Linked DNA regions of Homo sapiens. The protein of the gene in region 1 interacts with the protein of each later gene in a biochemical or structural test. Each region holds a gene or a part of one and is shown in the gene's direction. Other genes may lie near its edges.

What was found. Proteins that work in one complex are often made in the same cells at the same time.
Region 2: of the proteins of PRKACA (region 1) and MAPT, one has a biochemical effect on the other in vitro, tested with the Homo sapiens proteins (9 studies listed by BioGRID).
Region 3: of the proteins of PRKACA (region 1) and RELA, one has a biochemical effect on the other in vitro, tested with the Homo sapiens proteins (4 studies listed by BioGRID and IntAct, with this or other methods).

Annotation. Positions count from the first base shown.
Region 1 is NC_000019.10:14,114,750-14,121,696, reverse strand, and holds the start of PRKACA (cAMP-dependent protein kinase catalytic subunit alpha), read left to right. Parts: upstream 1-3,934; 5' UTR 3,935-4,149; coding exon 4,150-4,195; intron 4,196-6,947. Other genes in the region: histone chaperone ASF1B, read left to right, coding at 1-165, 1,032-1,238.
Region 2 is NC_000017.11:45,889,943-45,897,569, forward strand, and holds the start of MAPT (microtubule-associated protein tau), read left to right. Parts: upstream 1-4,611; 5' UTR 4,612-4,744; intron 4,745-5,537; exon of another isoform or gene 5,538-5,571; intron 5,572-5,840; exon of another isoform or gene 5,841-7,627. UniProt on the Homo sapiens protein: Promotes microtubule assembly and stability, and might be involved in the establishment and maintenance of neuronal polarity.
Region 3 is NC_000011.10:65,653,085-65,659,922, reverse strand, and holds the end of RELA (transcription factor p65), read left to right. Parts: intron 1-125; coding exon 126-257; intron 258-1,100; coding exon 1,101-1,205; intron 1,206-1,423; coding exon 1,424-1,636; intron 1,637-3,987; coding exon 3,988-4,068; intron 4,069-4,160; coding exon 4,161-4,235; intron 4,236-4,922; coding exon 4,923-5,545; 3' UTR 5,546-6,322; downstream 6,323-6,838. UniProt on the Homo sapiens protein: NF-kappa-B is a pleiotropic transcription factor present in almost all cell types and is the endpoint of a series of signal transduction events that are initiated by a vast array of stimuli related to many biological processes such as inflammation, immunity, differentiation, cell growth, tumorigenesis and apoptosis.

The DNA of each region.
Region 1 (6,947 bases):
AACCCATCCCTCATCCCAGAGACTGATGCCGTGGGTGTGACTGTGGTCCTCATCACCTGCACCTACCATGGACAGGAGTTCATCCGAGTGGGCTACTACGTCAACAACGAGTACCTCAACCCTGAGCTGCGTGAGAACCCGCCCATGAAGCCAGATTTCTCCCAGGTGGGGCCTGTTTCCACTTCCTGCTTCCCACAAGGCCGTTCTTTATACTTGGGGGGAGTTCAGCCATTCAAATTGAGAGTCAAGGTCACTTCTTAAGGTTTTCAAGTAATATTCAGTTCTTACAGTACTGTGTTAGAAGAGGAGAAAAAGACCTTTGTCTCTCAAAGGCATGTCTTAGAGAATTAAGATTAGGCCAGCCTGGGCAACATAGTGAGACCCTGTCCCTAACCCCCGCAAAAAAAAAAAAAAAAAAAAATGAGCCAGACATGGGTGGTGTGCTCTACTCTGGAGGCTGAGGTGGGAGGATCGCTTGAGCCCAGGAGTTTGAGGCTGCAGTGAGCTCAGATCGTGCCACTGCATTCCAGCCTGACCAACAGAGTGAGACTGTCCCTTAAAAAAAAAAAGTCCTGGGCCAGGCACAGTGGCTCACGCGTTGTAATCCCAGCACTTTGGGAGGCCGAGGCTGTAGGATCACCTGAGGTCAGGAGTTTGAGACCAGCCTGGCCAACATGGTGAAAGCCCGTCTCTACTAAAAATACGAAAATGAGCCAGGTATGGTGCCTTGCACCTGTAGTCCCAGCTACACAGGAGGCTGAGGCAAGAGAATCGCTTGAACCCGGAAGGCAGAGGTTGCAGTGAGACGAGATCACAGCATTGCACTCCAGCCTGGGCAACAAAAGCAAAACTCCGTCTCAAAAAATAAATAAATAAATAAATAAATAAGGTCCTGGCCACAGGTGTTTTCTGGAGTTCCATATGTAGGTTGCTCTTGCTGGGCTTGAGATGGGTGATTGGGGGTGTCCTGGCTCTATGGGACCAAGGAGAGGGCGTACCTACAAGGGTTGACGTTCCTCTTCCTGCCCCAGCTCCAGCGGAACATCTTGGCCTCGAACCCCCGGGTGACCCGCTTCCATATCAACTGGGACAACAACATGGACAGGCTGGAGGCCATAGAGACCCAGGACCCCTCCCTGGGCTGCGGCCTCCCACTCAACTGCACTCCTATCAAGGGCTTGGGGCTCCCTGGCTGCATCCCTGGCCTCCTCCCTGAGAACTCCATGGACTGCATCTAACTGCAGGAACCCAGAGTGTCCCAGCACGCCGGGAGGGGCAACCAGGCCTCCCAGCGAGTCCTGCAGGGCCCATCTAGAGGACTTTGGGGGCCATCAGCTGCAATCCAGGTCTGTCAAACTCAGCCCCTAGGAAAGAACAGGCCTTGGGTCTCCCCTAGTCCTGGCCAGAAGGATGATCTCGCTTTTCCTCTACAGGCCTATAAGAAGCAGGTACTTCAGTTCTAAATTCTGACTTGTGTTCTTTTCGTCTTCATAAATTCTAACTAAGGCCACTGTGCCACTGTGCACCCTTGAGTACCATTGATCCAAAGCTTTCCCACAGACCTCCCTGGCCCACCTAGAGGCTTTCTTGGTCAGTGCCTGTCAAGGCTCCAGTCCTGCTGAGCCAAAGGCTTTGTCATTCCTTTCTCTTCCTGTACATCTGAGCAGACCCACTCCAGCTTTCTGGTGTCACAGGCGGGAATGTTAGTTAGTAGGTAGACTTAGATCCCATTTCTGTCCTGCTCCCAGGAAGATTCTTAGGTCCTCTTCAATCCAGCAGCCCCTCCCAGAGGTGTGATCAGCAGGATGCTGAGGAACCATGTTGCCTTTCCTGTCAATCACAGCCACCTTCCTGTTATCTCCTAAATGGATCTGGCTTTTCCTGGAGGCTGCCATGGTTGGAAGATGGTATCAGAGGGCCTGCCTGGGCAGTCTGTCTCCGGGCCAGGGTCAGGGACCCTCTGCCTCTGGCAGCCTTAACCTGTCCTCTGCTAGGACCAGGGTGATTTCAAGCCAGGGAAGCAACTGGGACCCTGAAAACTGTCCCTCCCCAGCCCGCTCCCCCTCTCTGTGCCCTGGTCCCCTTGCTGCCATGTGGATGCTGTTGTGATTGCTGTTTGTATATTATCAAAATGTTTTTATATTAAAAATGTTTGGTCTGAAAATTAAAAGCACTTCATTTAGAATGATTGTTTGTGCTTTTGTCTCTGGTGGACTGAAGCAACTTTGTCCACTCTCCCCCAGAAGTGGCCTCTTGCCCTGTCCAGTGGGTTGGCTGTCCCACGTCTTCTTTCCAGCTTCCTACTCCAGTCTTAATTGGTTCTACAGTTGTATTCCAGACTGAGGTTCCAGGAGGGGTTTTTCTTTGTCAAAACTTAAACCAGCTGTCCTGCAGATAGATTATAATGAGTGATTTTTCAGACTTTGCCCTTGACCCACAGGAAATTAACATCGTGATCCCAACACACAAACAGCAATGCTTTTATTAAATTTTACTAAACCTTACCATGTATCTATCCATCCAGAGGCGGAGTGGTCAGCCATTTCCCCATAGTTCACAGAAAGGCTCTGACTCTCCCTCCCTGGAACTGTGGTTGATCTGGGAACATGGGGGCAGACAGCAGCTGGAGAAGGTGGAGGCTATTCAAGTCGAAGCAGCAGATCGGCTTGTAGTTAAGCCCAGCTAGCCCTTCCGAGTCGGGGTGACCTGGCTTCTCCCCTCCCCTGACCCTCTCTTAAGTGCTTCTCAATCAGGAGCAGTTCGGCCCCGCAAGAGCACATTCACCAATGTCAGGAGACAGCGGTTGCCACAGCCAGCAGGAAGATAGAGGAGGGGCTACTGGCATCCAGTGGGTAGAGGCGGGGGATGTTGCTCAACACCCAGTGGTGCACAAGACACCCCCCAGCAGAAAATGATCCAGCCTCACCGTCAGTAGTGTCGCAGTTGGGAAACCCCGACTGTCCTCTGCTAAGTGTGTACTGAAAGAGGATCCTGAAGGAAGGGGCAGGTTCCCTTCGCATTGCCCAGACAGGAAATACAGACGGGGAACAGGAGCAGGGAATCTGCCTGGCTGTACCCCAGATTCCTCATCTGTGCAATGGGAGTGATGATGGTAGCACCTACGCGATGGGAGTGTGGTGCGAAGGAGCGTTAAGTGGGTGCCAGCTCTTACTACTGGCAGGAGCCCAGGGCTAGGGCCCAGCAAAGGGGTGGACACTGAGCGCCCCTTCCCAGCCACCCCTTGCGCCGGGCCCGGCATCCTCCTGAGTGCGGCTGGGAAAACCCAGGAGGCCCCGCGGCCTGGCCCCCAAGCAGGCCTGGCCTCGGCCGCCCAGCGCCAGGCCTTATGAATGACGCCGGCGGCGGCCGGGCGACCTCTGACCCGCGCGCCGGCCGCGCCCCTCCCCCGCTGGCAGGTGGACAGCGGCTGCGCCGGGCAGGCCGCGGCGCCAACTCCGGCTGGCCGACAGCCGCTGCCGCACTGAGCGGGGGCGGGGGACTGCGGCGCGCGCGGGGCCGGCCGGGCGCCCGCCGGGGCCGCCTCCTGAGCCTCGGAGCGCTGCGCGGCCGCCAGCCAGCCTCCGCCGCCCCGCCCCGCCGGCCCGGGCCCGCAGACTGCGTCTCCGCCCCGCCCTCTCACCCCCGGATTGACACTGAGCGTTCTGCTGGGGGGCTTGGCGGACCCGGCACCTCCGCCAATCGGCGGCCTCGCAGGGCGGACCCCGGGCCCAGTCCAGCGTCTCGGCCAATCGGACGCGTCTGCCCGCCCAGCTGCGGCCTCGCGAGCGAGTGAATGGCCGAGAGTCCGCGGTGCGTGTCCCGAGGCTGAGAGCCTATAGTGGCGCGGGAAGGTCGCGGGAGGGCCAATGGGAGGCGGCGCTGAGCCGTCAGTCAGGGCGGCCTAGGCCAATGAGCGGCGGGCTGCGGGGGCGTCACAGACAGCGGCAGAGATCTTGGGCTGAGGTTCCCGGGCGGGCGGGCGCGGAGAGACGCGGGAAGCAGGGGCTGGGCGGGGGTCGCGGCGCCGCAGCTAGCGCAGCCAGCCCGAGGGCCGCCGCCGCCGCCGCCCAGCGCGCTCCGGGGCCGCCGGCCGCAGCCAGCACCCGCCGCGCCGCAGCTCCGGGACCGGCCCCGGCCGCCGCCGCCGCGATGGGCAACGCCGCCGCCGCCAAGAAGGGCAGCGAGCAGGAGAGCGGTGAGTGCCCGGGCTGTGACCCCGATCTTGGCCCTGCGCTGCCAGCCCTGGCCTTGTCCATCATCGCCTGGCCCCTCCCCCTACGGGGCCCCTCATCCTCTCTGCCTACCCCCCAGCGCCCCTTGCCCCGGCCTGTCCAAGGCTGGGGCCCGCGGGCCCGCAGAGTACCCCCTGTAGGGGTCCCCTTCCCCTAGGGCCGCCCCATGCTGCAAAGACCGTGCTCCCCCCCAGCTGTCACTGCCAACCATGGCACGTATGACCGCTGGGGCCCCACATGGGCCCCTGTCACCAGCCTACCCCCTCCTTTCCTGGCCCCTCTTCCCAGATTCTAATCCCCCCACTTCCTCACTCACCTCTCTCACCTATGGGATCCTCTGCCTGACCCCGACCCAGGTTTCTACCAGTTTGGGAATGCGATGAGGTCTGTCTGCCTCCACCGCGCAGGGACCTTGGCCACTTGCTGACCACACCCCTCCCCCCTCCAGCCCCCGCCATCTTTCTCCTGCCCTTTCCCTCTTCACCTTAGCACAGCCCCCCCTTCCAAACCCATCCTGCCCCCTGAACATTTCCCAGAGCCACCTCCAGCATTATTTTTTTCTTCTGTGTCACTTGGCATGGGGGACAGGATCTTTCTGGGTCCCTCTGCCTCTCTCATCCTGTCACTCTGTCATTCTGCTGCTCTGCTTGTGCTCCGTCCTCCAAGCAAGCGTCTGTCCCTGGCTGGGGTAGCAGACTGTTTATGAACGTAGAGAATTGCTTCAGTGCTTCCAAAGCCAAGTTTGAGCTGGTCTTGTTGGGATTCATTGCATCCTCTTTCCTGCGTTGGGGTAAGGGGGTGGTGGCAGAGCCCCCTCTCATTTCCTGTCTTGCAGTGAGCTCTAGGCTCCATGGAGGGCCCCTCAATAAATGGTCGTTTCACAACTGAGGCTCCGTCATTCACCCAGTCCCTGGGGCTTCTTCCACCACTCCTGGCTTGGGATGAAAAGTGTCTGGGTTTAGCGAGGTTCATTCGGTTCTAACTGAGATGGTCAGAAAGAGCACTGGGGAGGAGGAGGCAGTCAAAGAGAGTAATGGGTGACGTCTAGTGATTTGCTTTGACGTCTAGTGATTCTGATCATTCCCAGGGCTCAGCCAGAGAGAGACCTGTTTCACCCACTTGCCCACACATTAGGTTGGTCTTTTCCAGCCAGCCAGAGAAAGAGATTCTCTATCTGGAAATACCATCAGAAATGGTCTTGAACCCCATTCCCAATTTTTACAGCTCTTAAATTGTTGTCACTCCAGTCTGAAAGCTGGAAGGCAGCTGGGATCCCCTGTCCACTTACCCAGAAATAGTCGGAACTATTGGTCGAAAAGGAAGGCCAGTTTTTGGTCTCAAACCCCAGCATCTGAGTTTCCTGAATGCCCCCTCCCAGAAAGGTATGAAAGCCAGGGAACTTTATTCCCATACGGATTCAAATAGCAGAACTCAGAGTCACAGAGCGATCATGAAGAGGCCTGACATGTCACCAATGGGTGGGGGCTGGGGAGGGAAATGCCTGTAGCTGAGTGCCTGATGACAGAGGAGCAGGTGGGTAGTGTCCAAAAAAGGTCTGGGCATGAGCTTGGAGGGGACTTGGCCGGGGGGGGAGGAGTCAGGCCCCCAGCAGGTGAGGCCAGCTGGGAGGTGGAAGGTAGAGGCAGGCAGCTATATATTGCGGTAGCTCAGTTGAAAGTTGGGGAGATGACAGTCCTGGAAAACCTTCAAGGCTATCAGACACATGTGGTGGGGGGTGGAAAGCCACACAAGAAAAAGGATCCCAAGAAAAAGATCAGAGGCTCTGGAAGGAACCACTGATTCTCTCAGAGCACAGGTCAGACACCCAGGAATGAATGATCATGGTAAAATAGAGCTACTATTTATTGGGCATCTAGGCTGTGCCACAGGCTAAATGGCCAGGCGGATAGAGATACCTACTCTGGTGACTTTCATAACGGGCTGTTATCCAAATTTTCCAAAGGAGCCCTCTGGTAGAAATGACATCCATGACATAGATGATGTCACAGAGGCAGGATTCACATCCAGATCCATCTACCAGCAAACTTCTTGGACCCCAGAATTCCCCGACTTTGACATTTTTCAGCAGCCTCCCAGATTTTTACTCTATCATATTTTCTTAATTTAAAATAATAAAAGTTTTACTCACTTGTGTTCAGATGTAAACTTGGAGCTCATTCTAAACAATAATATAAATGAAATCATGGGATTGCCATGCCAGTTATATTTTCTCTGATACGCATTAAATACAGTGTAACTAGATAAATGAAACATCCCGAAAATCATGTCATGTTCTGCCAATGGGACTATGTCACACGTTGAGAAACGCCCGAAGCTGTACTTCCTCCCAGAGGCTCCCAGAGAAGGAAATAAGATGAGGAAGGAAGTCCCTCTTTGCTTTGAGGCGCTCTGATTCTGAGAGGATGGAGTTAGACAAAATTTGCCCTCTTAGAAGGGTGGGGCAGGGGCAGGGGCAGTAGCCAGGCCAGCCTGCAGGGGGCACCTGGATTTCATCTGCCAGACGCCGGCCCGACTGGGGTCAGGAAAATGCCCAGGCCTTGGGAGGCACCAGTTAAGCATCCTGCAGTCCCCTGTGGTACCATCTCTGTGCCAGGGCAGGACAGAGTCCGCCTCCTCCCAAGAGGCCAGGGATCCAGAATGAACCCTGGAGTGGAGTTGGGGGAATCTACACCCAAAGATGGCAAAGCCATTGGG
Region 2 (7,627 bases), on another chromosome or scaffold:
AAATATTCTTCTGAGACAGGGCTTTTATCATATTGCCATAGGGTGCCACGATATAAAAAAGGTTAAATACTCTCTGATTCAGAAGTATCCAATGATGACTTCTCTCTCATGCATTTAATTGAAAATCTGGTTTTTCTCCTTCTCTGCTAGTTCTCTACCTCTCTCCCCACCTCCCACATCATAGCCTATTCACATATGTCTGAATCTCATGATAGACAAGTTCAGGTTCTTTTCCCAGGTTCTTTTTACCACATCCCCCCACCCCCACATAAAAAGTATATATGGCACAGCCTAGGTTCCACCCAAATCCTTTCTCCTCTTCTTCCTGGGCCCACAACTCTCCTACATACATTGGTATACCTTGCGCTTAGGGATGGCCATGTGACTAAGTTCTAACAGTGGAACATGATCAGATGCCACTTCCAGCCTCTAAGACAGCCAGTGTGTTTCCTCCATAAGCTCCTTCTCTTCCTCCCAACTGGAGACTCTAAATGATGACCCTGCCTCAAGCAAGCAAACAACAAGTCCCTCAGGGGTGGTGTAGGCTGCAAATGGAAGGAGCTTGAGTCCCAAACCTTCCACGGAGAAGGCTGGCTACCAACCTGGATCACTCACCCAAGACTGCTCGAAGAGTTGGTTTGAACCATTGTGTTTTGGGGTCTATTTATTACAACAGTTTAGCTTGCTTTGTGAATAGATTTAGTGGCAGAGCCTCCAAATTCTATAGATACATTGATCTCAGTCCTAACCGCATCTGGAACACCATTAAATAAAGGAATTGCAAACCCAGAGAAGGTAATGAATTTGTCTAAGGTCATACAAGATGGCTAGGATCAGGACCCAACTCTCCAGTTTTCTTTCTTCTCTGCTATTCTGCCTTCTGTGATCCTACATAAGTGGGCATGATTGTATAACATATGCGGCCATGAGATTTCTCTTTCAGCAAGAGAAAGGGACAGGAAGAAAGAGAGGGAATGCATTTTCTTGGCCTGAATTAGTGTGAGCCATTAGTTACCTACATTGACTAAATTATCTGGAATGAACATTCAACTCTACATCACATATAGTTAAAATGACAGATCTGCTTAAGATTGTTTCTAGCATACGTTATTTCAATTTAGGCAAATGTGACCATTCAGTGTGAGGGGACCATACTGTCATTAGGTCCCTGTCAGTTCTCAATTATACTGTTATCTTAGAGGGGGAAAAATGTGAAATTTGAATGTAGACGAGTGTTGATTTGACTGCTACAGTTTATTTTACGTATAGAAATAAAATAATGTGTAGCAAAAGCATTATTACAAAGATGATAATGAAATAACTAGTATTTATAATAGTATAATAGTATAGTATTTATAATAGTATGATAGTTTAATGACTATTTGTCAGATGTTGTGTAAGAAACTTTATACACACACACACACACACCTCATTTAATTCCTGTATCAATCAGGATACAGGACGCTGTGGTAACAACTCCTCAAATCTCGGTGGCTTGCACAACAAATGCTTATTTCTTTTTTTTTTTTGACACCAAGTCTTGCTCTGTAACAGGCTGGAGTGCAATGGTGCAATCTCGGCTCACTGCAGCCTCTGCCTCCTGGGTTCAAGCGATTCTCCTGCCTCAGTCTCTCGAGTAGCTGGGAACACAGGCACGCGCCACCACATCTGGCTAATTTTTGTGATTTTAGTAGAGATGGGATTTCACCATGTTGCTCAGGCTGGCCTTGAACTCCTGACCTCAAGCGATCCACCCACCTCAGCCTCCCAAAGTGCTGGGATTACAGGCATGAGCCACTGCGCCCAGCCCCAAATGTTTATTTCTTGCTCATGTGACATGTACTTCCTCGAGTTTTTCCTTCCTGAGATCTAAGCTGAAGGAACAGCTCTCTGGAGCCACGCCATTCTGGTGGCGGAAAGGAAGAGTAAAAGTGGTAGAACCTTGCAATGCTCTTGAAGCGCCTATTTGGAATGTCTACATCATGTAAATGGTAATGGACAAGTATGTATAATCCCCACACCAAAAAAAGGGGACACTATTGGGGACAATAACCACATTTCAATGCTGCAAGACGGATATTGACTGCACCCCCTTCCCACTTTCAGAAAGAAGAAGAGTAATTTTGCTGAACTCCTTCTAGAGACTGGAAATGTCCCTTCCAGTTGGGGTGATTAGGGAAGGCTTTGGTAAAATTTGAGCTAGAGTTTGAAGGTTAGGTAGACTACTGGTGGGTGAAGAAAGAACAAGGACCTTTGTAGGCAAAGGAAAACCTCAGAATTACAGAGGTGGAAAAAGAGTTCTAGTCAAGCCACTTCAGCTGGCTACAGAGTAGGTGGGAAAGAAAATGGGAGGACAAGGGCTCAGATGATGGGGGGTTGGGGCATTGGGGGGACACTTGAAAGCTAAACTAAGGGGTTGAACTTAATTTAGGAGGCAGTTAGAAGCTTTTACATATTTTTGAGCAAGAGAGTGACATAATTAAAATGATCTGGGCCAGGTGTGGTGGCTCACACCTGTAATCCCAGCACTTTGGGAGGCTGAGGAGCTTGGGTCACCTGAGGTCAGGAGATCGAGACCAGCCTGGCCAACATGGTGAAATCCCGTCCTACTAAAAATACAAAAATTAGCCGGGAGTGGTGGCATATGCCTGTAATCCCAGTAGCTGGGAGGCTGAGACAGGAAAATCGCTTGAACCCGGGAAACAGGTTGCAGTGAGCCGAGATCGTGCCACTGCACTCCAGCCTGGGCAACAGAGCGAGACTCCATCTCAAAAAAACAAAACAAACACACACAAAAAACCAAAAATAAATAAATAAAATGATCACTTCTGAATACTGATCTAACTAGGGGTTGCAGGGTGGGCTGATATAGGGAGAAACTGGAGAGCAAGGAGATCACTAAGGTCCCTACATGTCCAGAACCAAGATAGAGGTCTTGAACTAGGATGGTGGCAGTTAGAACAACAACAACAAAAAGTCAATTCCAGGCTGAGTGCAGTGGCTCATGCCTGTAATCCCAACGCTTTGGGAGGCTGAGGTGGGAGTTAGAAAGCAGCCTGGGCAACACTGCAAGACCTCCTCTCTAAAAAAAAAAAAAAAAAAAAGTTAGCCAGGTGTGGTGGTGCCCACCTGTAGTCCCAGCAACTCAGAAGGCTGAGGTGGGAAGATTGCTTGAGCCCCAGGAGTTCAAGCTTGCCGTGAGCTACGATTGTGCCACTGCACTCCAGCCTGAGCAAGACCTTGTCTCCAAAAAAAGGTCAATTCCACTGACTTTTCTAAGGTGTACACCATCAAGGGGCAGCTCCATCTCCAGGCCATTGGCTCATGAGACATTCTGTAGTCAGAAGGCTAGGGCAGATTGCTTTGAGCAAGCCCCCATGGTGGTTCTCACTCCTACTTCTTTGGGTATATGCCCCTCTGTTTAAAAATAAAGTTAATATGCATTTAAAAAAAAAAAGGAGAAAAAGGTCAGTTCCAGAAACTGTGTGAATAAAGCATTTTACTTGCTTTTTCTATTAATCTATAACATATGTTGATTTTTTAAAAAGAATATAAGAGCTATGCAAATTGGAGCTTCAAGACAACTTCCCATCTCCCTAGGAGGAGATGGCTGCCCTAAACCCCCCTACATAGAAATCATCCCACTGCTTGGGCTTAAACTTGATGTTGGGGAAATGAAAAATCCAAGCTAAGGCCGAAGCCTGGGGCCTGGGCGACCAGCAGAATGAGGACCACTGGTCAGTTTCAGGCTGAGGTGCGTCTTCCAGGGGACAATCTCTAGCTGGCCCTTAAACATTCAGACTTCAAGCTCTATTTACAGCATAAAGGTGTTTCAAAAGACGTGATACAAATAACTGCAAATGCTCTGCGATGTGTTAAGCACTGTTTGAAATTCGTCTAATTTAAGATTTTTTTTTCTGACGTAACGGTTAGATTCACGTTTCTTTTTTTTTAAGTACAGTTCTACTGTATTGTAACTGAGTTAGCTTGCTTTAAGCCGATTTGTTAAGGAAAGGATTCACCTTGGTCAGTAACAAAAAAGGTGGGAAAAAAGCAAGGAGAAAGGAAGCAGCCTGGGGGAAAGAGACCTTAGCCAGGGGGGCGGTTTCGGGACTACGAAGGGTCGGGGCGGACGGACTCGAGGGCCGGCCACGTGGAAGGCCGCTCAGGACTTCTGTAGGAGAGGACACCGCCCCAGGCTGACTGAAAGTAAAGGGCAGCGGACCCAGCGGCGGAGCCACTGGCCTTGCCCCGACCCCGCATGGCCCGAAGGAGGACACCCACCCCCGCAACGACACAAAGACTCCAACTACAGGAGGTGGAGAAAGCGCGTGCGCCACGGAACGCGCGTGCGCGCTGCGGTCAGCGCCGCGGCCTGAGGCGTAGCGGGAGGGGGACCGCGAAAGGGCAGCGCCGAGAGGAACGAGCCGGGAGACGCCGGACGGCCGAGCGGCAGGGCGCTCGCGCGCGCCCACTAGTGGCCGGAGGAGAAGGCTCCCGCGGAGGCCGCGCTGCCCGCCCCCTCCCCTGGGGAGGCTCGCGTTCCCGCTGCTCGCGCCTGCGCCGCCCGCCGGCCTCAGGAACGCGCCCTCTTCGCCGGCGCGCGCCCTCGCAGTCACCGCCACCCACCAGCTCCGGCACCAACAGCAGCGCCGCTGCCACCGCCCACCTTCTGCCGCCGCCACCACAGCCACCTTCTCCTCCTCCGCTGTCCTCTCCCGTCCTCGCCTCTGTCGACTATCAGGTAAGCGCCGCGGCTCCGAAATCTGCCTCGCCGTCCGCCTCTGTGCACCCCTGCGCCGCCGCCCCTCGCCCTCCCTCTCCGCAGACTGGGGCTTCGTGCGCCGGGCATCGGTCGGGGCCACCGCAGGGCCCCTCCCTGCCTCCCCTGCTCGGGGGCTGGGGCCAGGGCGGCCTGGAAAGGGACCTGAGCAAGGGATGCACGCACGCGTGAGTGCGCGCGTGTGTGTGTGCTGGAGGGTCTTCACCACCAGATTCGCGCAGACCCCAGGTGGAGGCTGTGCCGGCAGGGTGGGGCGCGGCGGCGGTGACTTGGGGGAGGGGGCTGCCCTTCACTCTCGACTGCAGCCTTTTGCCGCAATGGGCGTGTGTGTGTGTGTGTGTGTGTGTGTGTGTGTGTGTGTGTGTGGAGGGGTCCGATAACGACCCCCGAAACCGAATCTGAAATCCGCTGTCCCTGCCGCTGTTCGCCATCAGCTCTAAGAAAGACGTGGATCGGGTTCTAGAAAAGATGACTCCCTGCACGCCCCTCCCTGCACCTCCCGAGCAGTGATTCCGACAGGGCCTTCACTGCCCCTGATTTTAGGCGGGGGCCGGCCCCCTCCCCTTTTCCTCCTTCAGAAACCCGTAGGGGACATTTGGGGGCTGGGAGAAATCGAGGAGATGGGGAGGGGTCCACGCGCTGTCACTTTAGTTGCCCTTCCCCCTGCGCACGCCTGGCACAGAGACGCGAGCAGCGCCGTGCCTGAGAACAGTGCGCGGATCCCACTGTGCACGCTCGCAAAGGCAGGGTTCACCTGGCCTGGCGATGTGGACGGACTCGGCGGCCGCTGGTCCCCGTTCGCGGGCACGCACAGCCGCAGCCACGCACGGATGGGCGCGGGGCTGCAGGTGCATCTCGGGGCGGATTTCTTTCTCAGCGCTCGGAGCGCAGGGCGCCCGGCGTGTGCGCTCCCTGCCGGAGGCGCGGGGCTGGCGCGCAGGGCTCGCCCCTCACTGCGGCAGTGGGTGTGGACCCTGGTGGGCGAGGAAGGGGGAGGATAGGCTGTGCCTCCTCCCACTCCCGCCCCCAGCCCCCCTTTTTTTCCCCCTCGGAACGCGAGGTGCCATCTTTTTTCGGCGTGTCACGTCTTTACGGTGCCATGCCAAACCGGGTGGCCGGGCTTCATAGGACAGGGCGGGGCCTGGCATTAAAGGGAGGGGGACAATCAGCGCTGAAATCTTGGCGTTTTGCTGCTGCGGGCGTGAGCACTGGGGGCGTTCGCCCAGCACCTTCTTCGGGGGCTCTTTGCTTTGTCTGTAGAGGTTACGTGATCTGCGCTCCCAGCCCTGGTTTCTGGCTTTTATTCTGAGGGTGTTCAGTCAACCTCCCCCCTACGCCCATGCGCCTCTCTTTCCTTTTTCGCTCCTCATTTCCGAGCCCATTGTTGGATCTCGAGGCTTGCTGGGTTCGATGAACTCGAGTCAACCCCCCGACCCCCGGCACGCATGGAACGGGCGTGACCGCGCGCAGCCTCGTCTCGGAGTCTGCCGGCGCCGGGAAGCTTCTGAAGGGATGGGATTCGAGTCTCCGTGCGCGCTGCGGGCGGCGGCAGAGGGATCTCGCCCCTCCCTACACCCCAAGTGTCCTGAGGGCCACGCCACACCAGGTTGCCCAGCGAGGGACGCTGGCTACCCATCCGGGGATGGGTGGGGAGCCCTGGCGGGGCCTCTCCGGCTTTACGCCCTGTTGCTTCGCCTGGCCGGAGAATGTGAGGAAGGGGCATAAGGTTACTGGTGCTTCGGCCACACCCATCTTTCTGAGCCCACTGGACTGGGCGCAGAGGGGGGATTGCCATGGAAACCACAGGTGTCCGGAGAGGGGATCTTGGGGCTGGCCTCACCCCTTCCCTGCGGAGATTGGGGACCCTGGGGTAGGGGGAGCCGCGCCCAGTCGGCCTCCTGGAGGACACGGGAGGAAGCCCCGAACCCCCGCGCCTGAGGCTGTTTCTGATTGGCCCCTGGAGGCCGCAGACACGCAGATAGGCGGCCCTGGGTGTATTTTTATTAATATTATGTCCGTACTGATTAATATTATTTATCTTAAATAAATTTCACCCGTGTCCAAGTTCACCGCGCCCCCAAAACCGAGTCTGGGGCGGCAGGGGGAACTCCTGGCCAACGAATCCATGCCTCGCCCTCCTGTGATGAACCTGGTACGCACGGTTTTCTGGTTAATTCTATCGCTGAAAACTGGTGCGGGGGGCGCACTTCTGAGACGGAAGAGCATCTAGGAGCTGAATCCTCCACGCGGGTCGCCCAGGTTGATCTGAATTTCTGGGGAATGGCTTGGCTGCCCGCCCGGGACCAGGCCGACCCTCCTTGACGGTGGCGTAGAGGGCTGGAGCCTGGGTACTGCGAGGCTCCTCGCATGGCTGGGCCCGCCGCGAGGGGTTGCAGAGCGGCTCAGGGATCGATTCAAGCATCGTCTCTCCTCCCTCGCCCCCAGACAGAGCTGGGCGCGGGGTTCCCCTTCCAGATGGAGCGAGGGTCTCGGGGTGGCCCCGGAAAAGGGGAGCCCGCGGCCACGGCTACGTATTGCCATCTCGCGAGCAGAGATGTCACCTCCTGCCTTTGGAGGAAAGGGAGCCCGGTGGGGATGAGCGCATTTAGCCCAATGCTGGGAACAAAGCGCACTCCGCGCTTCTGCGATTTCGCTCCATTTTGAAATGTGTTGGCGCTTTGGTGGGGCCGCTGCGGTGGGCAAGGCCGGGGGCGCTGTTAATGGAGGAACCTCAGGGGGACGGTCCTTCGTAGGAAACTCTATCCTGGCTCTGCGCGCGCTTTAAGGAAATGGCTTCCCTCCAGGACCTCGAGGGATGCAGCTTTTGCGCGGATGACGGTGGGG
Region 3 (6,838 bases), on another chromosome or scaffold:
CCTCCTCTAGGACTTGTGTTTCACACACGCACCAGCGGCCCTCCCAGCGCAGAGCTCCCTGCCCCCACTGATAGCACCTATATCCCCACTTCCCCTGCTCTCCTGATCGCCTGTTTTCTTGGCAGTTCCTATAGAAGAGCAGCGTGGGGACTACGACCTGAATGCTGTGCGGCTCTGCTTCCAGGTGACAGTGCGGGACCCATCAGGCAGGCCCCTCCGCCTGCCGCCTGTCCTTTCTCATCCCATCTTTGACAATCGTGAGTAGCGAGGGAGACGCAGGAAGGGGAGAGGGTGGGCCTGAATAGGAGGAAGGGGGTTGGGGTGAGTGTGGCCTGCAAGAGGCGCTCTGGCTTCATTCAATCATCTTGCGTATTTGTCTACTCTTCTCTGCCCAGCTCTTTGTTGGCTGGGGAGAGAGGGCAAAGAAGACCCAGAGCTGTCCTTGAGGTGTAGCTCTGGCCTGGCAGGAAGTCTAGCAGAGAGTCTGATGGGAGATGGGCATTTTCAGTATTGTGTGATGAGAAGGTGGTGTGCCCACAACTGCGATAATGACTCTAGGAAATGAACTCCCAGGAACAAGATAGTGTTCGAGAATGATGATTCAGTGATGGAAGCCCACAGATGAATTGGGCTGACTGATCAGCTGCAGTCTTTAGTTAAGTAACCAGCAGGATGAATGGAAATAAAACGAATCTGGAGCCCCAAGGATGGGAAACCAGGATAAACTGGGGGTCAGGAGGGAAGGGCTCATTGCCAAGGTGGGTATGGACTGGCCTTAAAGATTGCTTTGGTCAGGTGGAGAAAGAGTGTGATCAGATTGGCACCCACTGGACTATAAGCTCCGGGAGAGCAGAGAGGTTTGGGTTTTGTGTGTGGTCGTATTCTTGCTTAGATCAGTGTTGAGTGCACAGTAGGCAAATACTTGTTGAATCGGTTGGGGTGAGGAGCTAATAAGAAGGTCTGACTTTGGCTACAAAGGTGTAGGTGGCAAGCTCTGGGCAACCTTGACTCTGGGCTGGGCAGGGAAGTTGCATCTCCTGCAGGCCACCCTGGGGACCTCTCGTGGCTCAGGTCATCCTCCCTTGTTTTCACTGCCTCAGGTGCCCCCAACACTGCCGAGCTCAAGATCTGCCGAGTGAACCGAAACTCTGGCAGCTGCCTCGGTGGGGATGAGATCTTCCTACTGTGTGACAAGGTGCAGAAAGGTATACATCAGGAGGCAGGGGTGGGCTCTTGGGAGCAAGGGGTGAAGCTGAGCAGAGAAGTGGAGTGTCAGGTAACTGGCTTTGGATACTTCCTCCTGTGCCTCGGGGGCCTCAGGTGGGCCGAAGGGTGATGTATCAGAAGACAAGCATCAGAAGTTGAGGGGGAGACCATGGAGGGTTAGACACACTGACCCACACTGCCACCGCATCTCCTGCAGAGGACATTGAGGTGTATTTCACGGGACCAGGCTGGGAGGCCCGAGGCTCCTTTTCGCAAGCTGATGTGCACCGACAAGTGGCCATTGTGTTCCGGACCCCTCCCTACGCAGACCCCAGCCTGCAGGCTCCTGTGCGTGTCTCCATGCAGCTGCGGCGGCCTTCCGACCGGGAGCTCAGTGAGCCCATGGAATTCCAGTACCTGCCAGATACAGGTACACAGCTGGGGTGGCAGCATCAGGGCAGCTGGGCTCTGTGCCGTGAGAGAGAGGCCAAGACTGCATGTCTGGGGCTGTGGTTGAGGGCCAGAAGCTGGAGTCAGAGCTTGGGATCCAAGAAACTGGAATCCATTTCTTGCCTCATTTAATAATAATGATACCTCAGACATTGAGCTAGTACTACACATCTGCCCCTATTCCAGGCACTTCACTGGATTACCTGATTTTAATCTCATGACCCTTTTGAAGTAGGAGATAGTGTCCAACTTGCCTGGGTTCACGTGGCTAGTAAGTAGCAGAGTCTAGCAGAGTCAGCGTTGGAACCCAGGCCATCTGGCTTCAGGATCCTTTTGCCACACTGGTTGTCTTGTCACTACCATACAGCCCAGCCACATTTTGGTCGAGGTTTGAGTGTCCACTTGGTACCAGGGCCTGTGCCAGGTATTGTGAATACAAAAAATGAGTAAGACATGCTCCCTGCCCTTCAGAGTCTCAGTCACTTGAGGAAGACAAATGTGCAAAACAGATCCTTAAGTCACGGAATGACATGTGAAATGGAGGTGTGCGCAGAGAAGCACGGGGGCACAGTGGCCTCCGGGGAGCTGGAGACAGCTGCATGGAGAAGGTGGCATTGAAGCTGGAGAAAGACACAGAAGTGTGTTCTCCAGGCAGGTGGCCCAGCACCTGGAAGGGAAGGGGTGTTGGCAACTGCACGGCCTATTCAGGGCCACCTTCGTGGTTTGAGCTGATGTTGGGCAGTGAGCAGGCTCAGAGATTGGAGGGCCTGGTTAAGCTGAAGGCCTCTAAGCAGAGAGGTGACAGGAGCAGATTTGGAAGTTGACTCAGGAGGCCACGTGTAGAAGATCAGAGACAGACAGACTCAAAGCAGGGAGGCCATTCTGGAAATGTTGCTGTAGTCCAGGAAGAGAAGATGCGGCACAAACCTTACAGAAGGAATAGCAGAGCAAGATCACATCTCCACCACTGTCCTCAGTTACCCTTCAGCCCTGCAGCCGTTTTGCGTCTTACAGACCAAGCTCAGTCTCACCTCAGGACCTGTGTCTAGCTGTTGCCTCTGCTTGGAATGCCCAAGGTTTTAATGCAAGTGGCTCATGCCAGTCCTTCCCTGACCTCTAAATTAGCCCTTCCCTCTACATTTAGACTGTCCTGACCTCACTTCCAGTATTGTTACATCACCATATCGTCCCTGGACCACCGTCACTTGAGATTTTCTGGTTTGGTTTTGTTTGTTTGTTTGAGACAGAGTCTCACTCTTGTCGCCCAGGCTGGAGTGCAGTGGTGCAATCTCGGCTCACTGCAACCTCCACCTCCCGGGTTCAAGTGATTCTCCCTGCCTCAGCCTCCCGAGTAGCTGGGACTACAGGCGCCCGCCACCACATCCGGCTAATTTTTTGTATTTTTAGTAGAGACGGGGTTTTCACCATGTTGGCCAGGGTGGTCTCGATCTCTTGACCTCGTGATCCACCCGCCTCGACCTCCCAAAGTGCTGGGATTACAGGCGTGAGCCACCACGCCTGGCCGAGATTTTCTGGTTTGTATATATGATTGTGTCCCTCTCACTTTTTCACTAGGATGCCAACTTTTTGGGAGCAGACACCTTGTGTGCATACTCACGGCCACATCCCCAGTGTCTAGAAGGGAGGCTGGCACATAGTAGGTGCTTGATAAATATATGTCAAGTTACTGGCGGGGAGTGAGAGAAAAGAAGATAATCATTCCAAGGTTTCTAGCTTTGGTGACAGGGCAGATGGCGGATGGTCAGGGAATGCAGGAGAAAGAACCTAGTTTTTGAGGGATGATGAGGTTGTCTTTGAATTGATGGAATTGAAGTGCTTTGGAGCTACTGAAATACCACTGTAATTAGAAAGACAGTTCTGAAAGCTCTGACTAAAATATGAAACCATTAGAGATAAGAATAAGAGTCTCTGCTGAAGTCTTAAGGCAGTTGTGCCTCAGCTGCCCCAGAGTGCCAAGAAATTCTCGCCAGGCCTGGGTGGAGGCTGACAATGAGCCAGGATGTGAGCAGTGCAGGAAGGTGTGAGCTGGAGGCTGGGGCCCCCCAGGTCTCCTCTTTGCCCAGAGCATGGCCCCTGTACTCGGCCTCACCATGTGGTCTTAGAGGGGCAGATTCAGCCAACAGAGGCCTCCAAAAGCTGTGGGATTCTCAGAACTGCTGAGTGTCACACATCCCTTCTCATTGGCAGAGAAGGTTGGGAGAATGGGTCTTGGGAAAGCCTGGCTCCTCCCCTTCCTCCTGAGGGACCTTTGAGAGCGTCGGGGACCCACCTGAGGAGAGCAAGTCCCACTTCTCCCCCTTACTTTCCCAGACGATCGTCACCGGATTGAGGAGAAACGTAAAAGGACATATGAGACCTTCAAGAGCATCATGAAGAAGAGTCCTTTCAGCGGTGAGATGGGGACTGGGAAAGCCAGAGAGGAAGGCAGCGGGCAGGGAGGGGACACCCTGGGGCTGAGAACTGACCTAGCCCTTGCCCTACAGGACCCACCGACCCCCGGCCTCCACCTCGACGCATTGCTGTGCCTTCCCGCAGCTCAGCTTCTGTCCCCAAGCCAGGTAAGGATTTCCTTTTGTCCCACTGGAACGACAGGTTCAGCTCTGTTCAGCTGAGGAGCAGTGGAGATGAAGACTCCTGGGCCCCATTACAGACCTACTGAATCAGAGGCTTTGAAAGGATGGCGCAGGAACCAGCGACTTCCTGGGATGCTAATGCACACTGAAGCCTGGGAACCACCGTGCCACTTAAATTCTATATTGGGTATCTTGGGAATCAGAAGTTAAAAATGCAGAATCTCTGCTCTCATCTCTCACTTGAATTGGGGGAACAAAAATCACCTCTAAATTAGCAAGATGTGTGTGCCTGTGCGAGGCTCAAAAACTGACAAGCTCTGCACTTCAGGCCGCTGCTCACTTGGTGCTCCATGGGCTCATTGCCTCTCAGGACTTAGTTTTTCAGCTGTAAACTGAGGAGTCCAGCTTATCTCTCCAAGTGTCCCTTCCTCTAAAAGGCTGGAAGAGTTTCGTGGGCTTGAGTAGTCAGGGAGGACTCCAAGGTGGAGGTGTGGCTAGAACTGGACCCTACAGGCTGGGTCAGATGGGGTAAGAGGAAGGAGATAGGGTGTTGGCAGTGACTCCCTAGAGAGGGATTGAGCCTGAGCACCATGAAGAGGGGCTGGGGTACAGAGGACGGGGTGGATCTCTAGGGCTTTCTCTGACCCCTGCCTCTCTGTCTCTCTCCTCCAGCACCCCAGCCCTATCCCTTTACGTCATCCCTGAGCACCATCAACTATGATGAGTTTCCCACCATGGTGTTTCCTTCTGGGCAGATCAGCCAGGCCTCGGCCTTGGCCCCGGCCCCTCCCCAAGTCCTGCCCCAGGCTCCAGCCCCTGCCCCTGCTCCAGCCATGGTATCAGCTCTGGCCCAGGCCCCAGCCCCTGTCCCAGTCCTAGCCCCAGGCCCTCCTCAGGCTGTGGCCCCACCTGCCCCCAAGCCCACCCAGGCTGGGGAAGGAACGCTGTCAGAGGCCCTGCTGCAGCTGCAGTTTGATGATGAAGACCTGGGGGCCTTGCTTGGCAACAGCACAGACCCAGCTGTGTTCACAGACCTGGCATCCGTCGACAACTCCGAGTTTCAGCAGCTGCTGAACCAGGGCATACCTGTGGCCCCCCACACAACTGAGCCCATGCTGATGGAGTACCCTGAGGCTATAACTCGCCTAGTGACAGGGGCCCAGAGGCCCCCCGACCCAGCTCCTGCTCCACTGGGGGCCCCGGGGCTCCCCAATGGCCTCCTTTCAGGAGATGAAGACTTCTCCTCCATTGCGGACATGGACTTCTCAGCCCTGCTGAGTCAGATCAGCTCCTAAGGGGGTGACGCCTGCCCTCCCCAGAGCACTGGGTTGCAGGGGATTGAAGCCCTCCAAAAGCACTTACGGATTCTGGTGGGGTGTGTTCCAACTGCCCCCAACTTTGTGGATGTCTTCCTTGGAGGGGGGAGCCATATTTTATTCTTTTATTGTCAGTATCTGTATCTCTCTCTCTTTTTGGAGGTGCTTAAGCAGAAGCATTAACTTCTCTGGAAAGGGGGGAGCTGGGGAAACTCAAACTTTTCCCCTGTCCTGATGGTCAGCTCCCTTCTCTGTAGGGAACTCTGGGGTCCCCCATCCCCATCCTCCAGCTTCTGGTACTCTCCTAGAGACAGAAGCAGGCTGGAGGTAAGGCCTTTGAGCCCACAAAGCCTTATCAAGTGTCTTCCATCATGGATTCATTACAGCTTAATCAAAATAACGCCCCAGATACCAGCCCCTGTATGGCACTGGCATTGTCCCTGTGCCTAACACCAGCGTTTGAGGGGCTGGCCTTCCTGCCCTACAGAGGTCTCTGCCGGCTCTTTCCTTGCTCAACCATGGCTGAAGGAAACCAGTGCAACAGCACTGGCTCTCTCCAGGATCCAGAAGGGGTTTGGTCTGGGACTTCCTTGCTCTCCCTCTTCTCAAGTGCCTTAATAGTAGGGTAAGTTGTTAAGAGTGGGGGAGAGCAGGCTGGCAGCTCTCCAGTCAGGAGGCATAGTTTTTACTGAACAATCAAAGCACTTGGACTCTTGCTCTTTCTACTCTGAACTAATAAATCTGTTGCCAAGCTGGCTAGAGATCCGCTTTTTTTCAGCAAACACTGAGCACACATTTTGCTAGTCACATCAGGCCAGACATTGGTGGTAGAGAGCTGGGTGAATGCGTGCACTGTCCTCTGAGAGCTTGCAGTCTGAGAATGCCCTTGGAAACCCCGAGTTACCGTCCAGTGGATGAAAACGGGCAGCTAAGGCAAGAGTCCTAGCACACTGAGAGCCTAGTAGAGCCCGCTGGCTGTGGGGATGGAGCAGTTTCAGGAGTCTTCCAAGAGGCCCCATTAGCTCCAGGTCTTAGATCAGCTGAGAGTGGATGTCAAAGAGGGACTAGCCAGCGTCAGAGGTAAGAGAAACGATGTTCGAAAGATGTGATGGGGCCAAATTCCTTGGGTGGCCCAGGGAGTGTGTGCTTCTCTTGGGGAATGTGTGGTGCCAGGTAAAGATCTACCCGGCCCACCGATGCTTTGATACTCTGTTCTGGGAGGAACGGTGAAATCTTCAATCCACAGCCTCAGGAAGCCAAAACAAAGGCCCA